2 linked regions of the Homo sapiens genome follow. The protein of the gene in region 1 interacts with the protein of each later gene in a pairwise test. Each region holds a gene or a part of one and is shown on either strand. Other genes may lie near its edges.

Region 1 (3,500 bases):
TAATTAATTAAGATAGTTTAGTGGAAGACCCAGAAAACTGCTATGCTAGTGGATAGTTGCATTTTATCTTGTTTTTGCATTCTCTTAGAAGAGCAGGAACTTAGATCAGACAAATTCAAATCCACAAGATCTGTTTCCAGGCCCTTCCATTCTACAATCCTTACATGGTCAGTGTTGCCCTCTTCCTTAAGATGTTAAAATCATTTTGCTCAAAATAGGCACTTTCAAAAGAAATCTGGCACAGTAGTGGGCAAAAGTAAAAAGGTCAGCATGAGAAAAGGCTGTCACGCCATTATAATCTCCAAGGTTCAGATCCATTCTGGGAATGAATAAAGGACCATTTCAATAGAATGGTTATGCTAATCACTGTTTAAAAAATAATAACACTAACAAGAGGAAGAAGTCTAGCCTGGCATGGTGGCATGTGCCTGCAGTCCCAATAGCTCAGGAGGATGAGGCAGGAGGATCAATTGAGCCCAGGAGTTTAAGGTCAGCCTGGACAACATTAGCAAGACTCCTGTCTCTTAAATTTTTTTTTTTAATTAAAAAAAAAAAAAAACCAAAGTCCTTAAATAAATATTAGGAAGCTTTCTTTACAACAATGAATTACTTGCCATATTTTCTGACATTTGGGAGAATCTGTTATTATCCTCCAAATGAGGTCCATTTTTCAAAATTTTTCATGCTTCATTCCTTATTTCAGAACATTTTCACATCTTGGGAAATTCATATCTGTTTTGGAATAGTTTTCTTTTTCTTTTATTCCCCCAATGAAATGGCAGCATAAAAATTAGTTTAAAGCCACATTCATTGCTACTATCTATAAATTTTCAGATTCTCCAGCAAGTCTCCTTGGCTTCCTCTTTTCTTATTCACCCTTCTCATGCTTGAGAAATTAAGCATAAAATATTCCTAAACCATAACATAATCTCCTCAACTGTGATCTTCGGTTTAGTTTCTCTGTGCTTCTGAACCCTAAGAAGTACATTTCACTTTACTTTTCCATTCATATACATCAGTATTTAGTTCATAACTCAATTTACAGTTTGAAGCTATTGTGGCTGGTTTTCTTTTTTCTTCTTTTTTTGGGGGGTGGTGGTGTGAGGACGTGGTCTAGCTCTGTCACCCAGGCTGAAATGCAGTGGAACAATCTTGGCTCACTGCAGCCTCAACCTCCCAGACTCAAGCAATCCTCCCACATCAGCCTCCCGAGTAGCTGGGACTACAGGTGCACACCATCACGCCTGGCTAATGTTTGTATTTTTCGTAGAGATGGGATTTCAGCATGTTGCCCAGGCTGGTTTCAAACTCCTGGGCTCAAGTGATCCAGCTGCCTCAGCCTCCCAAAGTGTTGGTATTACAGAGGTGAGCCACTGTGCCTGGCCATGATTGGTTTTAACATTTCCTTTTCTCAGATCTTTTTGGCCTTTTAGTTGATAGAATTTACTTTTAACCAAATCTTACAATATTCTTATACAGGAGTTTCTTTCTTGGAAATCAGTATTTCACTATAACTCTAAACATAGCAAACTGTCTTGTTACATGAGAATCTGAGTGCCCGCTACGTGCCCAGAACTAAAAAATACTGTAAGTTAAGAAGTTTGATAGAATGCCTATCCCAAGCTCCCAAGGTATAGACCGAAGGCATGCATCCATTAAACAATCAGAAAATGAGTTAGTATTATATAAAGTATAATCCATGCAATCCAGAGCCTCTGTAAGCCTAGACATTCTGGATAACTGTGCTTTCTAGATAATCTATTGCTTATCCTTTTAAGTAAAAAAATTATATTTAAACCATTTTGGATAGAAAACTATATTTTTTTTCTTCTTTCACTAACAAGCTATATTGAACATAATTTAATCTTTATTTGATGGCTAACAGTCATAATAAACATAAATCATAGCACAAAGATACAGTAAACTGATGCTTGGGGCTTACATAGGTATATAGGGCTATATACACCTATGTTAATAGCTTCAAACAGCCGGGAGGTAGGATAAATTATGCTAAATTTGTGTGCTTTCTCTGTCTCCTTTTTGTTGGCCTGTTACACAGACGTATCATACTACTATAAACTCTGTAAGGGAACAGAACATGTATGAAGAGAGGGGCTAATTCTGACAGACCACGTACAATGTCCCAGGTCTCAGACATATTTTGCAGTGCATCTAGCAATCACTTGGCCTGGCACAAAGTATATCATGGGTAAACATTGGGTATATGAATGATTCCTCTCCCTTATTTACTCTTTCTAGTCTGCCATGCTTGGAAAACAGATCCCCAAGCATGAAAAAACACCATTTAAAATGTGTCAGGCAGGGCACTGTGGCTCACACCTATAATCCCAGCACTTTGGGAGGCTGAGGCAGGAAGATCGTTTGAGCCCAGGAGTTTGAGACTAGCCTGGGCAACATAGTGGGACACGATCTCTACAAAAATAAAAATAAATAATGTGTCTGGCATGGTACTTTGCACAGAACAGGTGCAACACAGCAAAACCGTATGTGCTGAACTGAGGATGACTAAGACTGAGGACTTAGAATATGCCAGGAATTATGGTAAGTCCCGTACACACATTATCTAAGATGATACCTATAAGGCAGATAGTATTATCCCCATTTTACAGATGCAGAAATTGAGTATCAAAGTGGTTAACTTGAATAATGTCAAGCAGCTAGTCAGTGGTGGCAGTGGAATGTGAATCCAGGAAGTCTGACACAAAAACAAGTGGTCTTAATGCTATAACATGCTTAATGCTAAGAAAAAGTGGACAGTATAATGCTATACTGTTCCTGAATAAATATCCAGTAAATAAGGAAGGCTAGAAGAACACAAAGTTTGTAACAACATGTTTTTCTAGTAGAAGTCTTCTTTGCTGACTTTCTGATTCTCAGGTATAGCATCAATCGGTGAGGGTTGCTATATGTAAACATTATACTGACAGGCCAAAGCGATCAACTGTGAAAGCTAGGCAAGCAAAGTACACTACAGATGACGTGCTCCAAAGACATGGAAGCTTGAGAGATCTGTGTGTATTAGGGTCATCAGGAAGGGCTTTAAGAAGTTAAAACCTAAGCCCAAGCTGTGTAGAGGAAAAGGGATGGGTAAGAGAAGAGGGCATTTTTTAGCTTAAGAATAAACACAAAGCCTTTGTGGAATACGGGATGGGGGAACACAAACAGGTGAATACACAAACACATGTGTGGTCTGGAACAATTATTCCACTGCAACTGTAAGCTCCTATTTCTGCCAGCTTTACTTCAGGCAAGTTACAGTTGGCAGTACAAATAGGGGTAGAATATGGCCGCTAATACAAAGGCCAAATCTGAAGCTATGATTCCACAGCTCTCATTAAATAATCCAGGGTCTTTAGGGGAGAGAGGGTTGGGAGCAGAGGTAACCTACCCTTCACTATGTCCACATCTAAAAAGGGAGGACATACTGACCTAGGCATGGTCTCATTTGCTCAGAAATCTTTTACTAGCTTTAACCAGAG
Region 2 (5,100 bases), on another chromosome or scaffold:
TTCTTTCCTTTTTATGGCTGAATGATATGCCTGTCCTCAAATTTTGACTGCTCTCTCCATCTTCCCTGGCTTCATTTCCTCCTCTTGTTCCTTAAATATTTGAGTATTCCAGAACTCTAATTTTCATCCCAGTTTCTTATCAATTTACACATGGATTTGCCACAGTTTTATCCATGCCCATGGCTTCAGCTACCATCTATAGATGAATAACCCCAAATCTAGCTCTCCAGCCCAAATGAGATCCAGGCTGGATGGAAGGTCTACAGGCAACTATCTCCAATGCAGTATATTCAAAAACAAGTTCATCTCTCTCTACAAAAAGCCTTTTTCTCCACAAAAAGCCTTTTTCTCCTGTATTCTCAAGGAAAGATACCACCATCTATCCTGTTGCTAAAGTATAGGGGACAATTAATTGCTCTTTTGCCTCCTTAGTGCCATTTTCACCTTATTTTTGTCACCTTACTCTGATTTCTCCCTGGATAATTACCTACTCCTTCACATTCAGTGCTAGTGTTTCAAGTGGCCTTCCTACTTAGATACATGTGACATACGTGATCTTGTCCTCAGCCAGTCAGTGCATAAGGCCTTGATGAGCTTTATACATATTAGTTCATTTTATTCCTACAATAACCCTATGATTTGGGTACTACAGTTATTCCCAATTGACAGGTGAGGAAACTGAGCCCCAGAAAATTTATGTAACTTGTTTAAAGCTGCATATTAAGTAAATGGCAGAGCTGGGACTCAAACTCAGGCTGTGCTCCAAGACCCAGTACATGACCACTCCATTACACAGTATGCTGCCTCTCACAGTTAGATAAAGAATGTGGAACTCAGCCAAGTATGGTGGTTCACGCCCAGCACTTTTGAAGGTCGAGGTGGGTGGATCACCTGAGGTCAGGAGTTCAAGAGCAGCCTGGCCAACATGGTGAAACCCCATCTCTACTAAAAAAAATACAAAAATTAACCGAGCATGGTGGCAGGTGCCTGTAATCCAGCTACTCAGGAGGCTGAGGCAGGGAGAATTGCCTGAACCCGGGAGGCAGAGGTTTCAGTGAGCCGAGATTGCACCCCACTGCACTCCAGCCTGGGCAACAGAGTGAGAATCTGTCTCAAAAAAAAAAAAATGTGGAACTGCAAACTGCTGAAAGTGCCCTGAATGACCCTGACCTAGCTGGGAGGTCAGAAGTCTTCTCGGAGAAAGCCACACCTGGGCACTCCTTGCATGAACCATAATTTAGCACCTAGTAATGATGGGAAAGGGGGTACCGAGTTACCAAGAGCAGGAGAAAGGACGAGCACAGGGTATAGTGAATTCTCTGGGGGCATGTTGAATTTGAGATGTCTTTGGATCATCCCCACTAAGCAATTAGATTTGTGAGTCTGAATTGCAGGTGTATTAAGCATTGTGTTTCCATTTGATAGGGATTTAAATTGATAAATGTTTGTTGAATAACTGAATGAATAAATACCCTCAAGGGTGGGATAGAGCTTTAGGAACCTTTCAGTTTATGCCCTGCAGAGATGGTGACTGTTTGGCTGTGCCAGTTCACTCCTGCCAGGAACGAGGATTCCATTGGTTGGCAACAGCCCAGGTAATGGGAGATGGGCTCCTTCAGCTCAGAGGTGCCACTTTTGTTCCCAAAAGGCAGCACACTTCCTGCCCTAGACAGAGAGGTCCCTCTGGCCCCTGATTCCTGCCCAGTCTGGCCTGGCAAAGGGCAGCCCAAAGAGTCTACTGAACTCTACAAATAACCACAGAATCCCACAGAGCCCAGCTTTGACCTTTCAGGGTATCTTCCCTTCTCCCTCAACCTGTTCCTCTGTTAGAGGAGGAAGGGCTGGGATTTGACATGCCCTTGCTTTCTGAGCCCTGTGCCTCTAACTCCCTCCTGGAATGAAATCTGAGTTCCTAAAGGGAGGAGGTTTCTCCCCATGAGGGGGTTTCTGTGTCCAATCACACCTCCCTGCCTGATGTTTGAGGCTGGATGAGCCTGGGATGCCTCATGGGTCTCTGAGCCCTAGGCGTCCTCTGGCCCAGACAGTTCCCAGGCTGTTGGGAACGCCATGTCTTCTACCTCCAGAGTGAATTTCTCTGGTTTGTAGGAGGTGCCTTAGTTAGACCCAGCCAGGAAGCAGAGCTCCTATCGCCATACCTGGGCTAGCAGGGGGGCCAAGCCTGGCTCACCAGGCTGACCAGTCTAGCAAGATTAGAACATCAGAGCAGAGGCCAGGAACAGTGCTGGCAGCCAGGTGCTTGGCTGAGGCCCCTGGCTCCCTTAGCAGGTGGGACAGCTGAGCAGAGCTGCCCTGAGCCCGCCTCCCCTGCTCTTCCCCACTGGGAGGGAGGGCTGGCAAAGCCCTGGCTCTGCCTCCCTGCAGCTCTGCCACTCAGGTCTCCCATGGTAAGTCTCTCCTTCCCCAGCACCTGTCCATTCCTACCTTTTGGAAGCACCAGGAGGTGGGCCTGGGTCCTCTGCTGCCTCTTCAAGCCTTCATACTGGGCTCGCAGGAACTGGATGCTGAGTGGGGGCCCTTTCCCAGGGGCCTGAGTCCTGGAGCCCTCAGCCATTAAGTGAGACCTAAGCTGCCAGAAGTGGGGCAGGGCTGGGCACGGGCAGGGCAACCCCTCCATCCGGATCCGGGAGAAAAGCAAACACAGCTGGGTGGGGCAGGACCTGGGGAGGGGAGAGAGAGGGAGGGGGCAGTGAGGGAGAAGGAGAAGTGACGGGCAAAAGGAGGGTGGAAAGAGGAGTGGGACTGAGGAAGGAGATAGAAAAATAAGGGGGAAGGAGAAAGATGAAGGGGAAGAGGAGGTAGGGATAGGGAGAAATGTGGGGGAGGAGAAAGGTGGGAGACAGTGGCAGTAAGAGGAGAAGGAAATGTCAGAGGAAAGAAGGGGCAGCGAAGGGGGAAAGACTGGAGGAAGGAGGTGATAGTGACAAGCGGGGATTAATGGGGCGAGAGAAGAAAGAGAGGGAGGAAGATGGAGACAGGCAGGAGGAGGCAGGGAAAGGAGTGATGGGGAGTGGGAGACCGAGAAGTAAGGGGAGGACTGGGGGAGCAAAGAGAAAGGCAAGCCCAGCTGCTCAGAGCCCTTCAGGGGGGTCAAGAAGGTGTCTTATTCCAGGTCCTTCCATTGCTTGATCCTAAAGTTTAGAATCCAATTCCCAGTGCCACGGTGAAGTCTCCCCTTTCCTGGCAGAGCTGGGACTGGGGCTGGGGAGTGCTAAGCTCGCGCTCTGCTCACACATTTTGGACTGGAACGTGGCCACTTTTCAGCAAACCTGCCGGTTGGGTTTGCAGTAGTTCAAAGAACACCCTCGGGAGCTTCACAAGGTCGGTGCCTCTGGATGTGTGCCCCGCGGCCACACCCTAAAGAAACCCAGTAGCAAAGATCTCCCCAAGATCTCCACTCAGACCCCAACACACACCCCAGGTGAAAATTCAGCCCTAAAGTCAGCCATGGGACAGAGCCCAGGGGAATCTTGGCCTCGGGCCAGCCCTACCCCTTGGACATTTGGTGCAGCCTCTGCCGTCTCAGCATTCTCCAACCAAGTGGTAAGTTAGGCATCCCCTCACTCTCTGCTTGCCAGCCTCAACATTTCCACATTGCTTTTGAATCCCAGACCCTCTCCCTCTTACACCAGCTTTGACCTAGCCTTGCTGCATTTGGTCAACTAAGTCCCTTTCTATCTTCTCCTATCACGGTGCTTACTGATTACCCAATTACCCAATATGTCTACAGAGGCAATGGAAACAGAGTAGAGCCTGAACCTACAAGACATTTTGGACATTAACCAGACAAGATCTAGTCATTTGATGTGGGGGAGCCGTGGAAGATGGAGAGCAAATCTTCACTGGGTAGTATATGTTAGTTTTGCTAGGGCTGCCATAACGAAATCCCACAAACTGGATGTCTTAAACAACAAACATTATTGTCTCAGAGTTCTGGAGGTTAGAAGTCCAAAGTCAAGGTGTGAGCAGGGTTGGTTTCTTCTTGGAGCTGTGTGAGAGTATCTGTTCCATGCCTCTCACCTTGCTTCTGATGGTTTGCTAGCAATCTCTGGTATTCTTTGGCTTGCAAAAACATTGCCTAATCTCTGCCTTTATCTTGACATGATGTTCTTCCTTTTTATTTTTTTATTTTATTTTTTTTTTGAGAGGGAGTCTCACTCTGTCGCCCAGGCTGGAGTGCAGTGGCGTAATCTCAGCTCACTGCAAGCTCTGCCTCCCGGGTTCGCATCATTCTCCTGCCTCAGCCTCCCGAGTAGCTGGGACTACAGGCACCCGCCACCGCGCCCAGCTAATTTTTTGTATTTTTCGTAGAGACAGGGTTTCACCGTGGTCTCGATCTCCTGACCTTGTGATCCGCCCGCCTTGGCCTCCCAAAGTGCTGGGATTACAGGCGTGAGCCACCACACCCGGCCTAATATGATGTTCTTCCTATGTGGGTGTCTCTGTGCCCAATTTTCCCCTTTTTATAAGTACAGCAATCACATTGGATTAGAGCTCAATCTGTCTCAAAAAAATACCGAGAGAGATAGCCAAAGCTTCCTCATACCTTTTTATCGGTAGATCACTCTATCATGAAGGCAAGAGCAACCCATCCATGCTGGACCAGCTGCACCTGCCATGAAATCATGGCAGTAGACATCATGGCAGTAGGCTGGCCACAATGGCTCACAACTGTAATCCCAGCACTTTGGGAGGCTGAGGTGGGTGTATTGATTGTGCCCTGGAGTTCAGGACCAGCCTGGGCAACATAGTGAAACTCTGTATCTACAAAAATTAGCCAGGCATGGTGGCACATGCCTGTAGTCCGAGCTACTCGGGTGGCTGAGGTGGGATGATCACTTGAACCCAGAAGCTCGAGGCTGAAATGAGCCATGATTGCACCACTGTACTTCAGCCTGGGTAACAGAGTGAGCTCCTGTCTCAGAAAGAAAAGAGAAGAGAAGAGAAGAGAAGAGAAGAGAAGAGAAGAGAAGAGAAGAGGAGGAGAGAAATAATGGCAGTAGAAATTTCTACTATATTTTCGCATTTACTTGTCAGCCTTCATCTTTTAGTATTAACAGTTTTTGTCTTTTTCTATATGGG

What was found.
Region 2: the proteins of ANKS1A (region 1) and C9orf152 interact in a two-hybrid assay, tested with the Homo sapiens proteins (one large-scale study listed by BioGRID).

What each region holds. Positions count from the first base shown.
Region 1 is NC_000006.12:34,892,255-34,895,754, reverse strand, and holds part of ANKS1A (ankyrin repeat and SAM domain-containing protein 1A), read right to left. Parts: intron 1-3,500. UniProt on the Homo sapiens protein: Regulator of different signaling pathways. Regulates EPHA8 receptor tyrosine kinase signaling to control cell migration and neurite retraction.
Region 2 is NC_000009.12:110,204,945-110,210,044, forward strand, and holds the start of C9orf152 (uncharacterized protein C9orf152), read right to left. Parts: upstream 3,216-5,100; 5' UTR 2,636-3,215; coding exon 2,443-2,635; intron 1-2,442.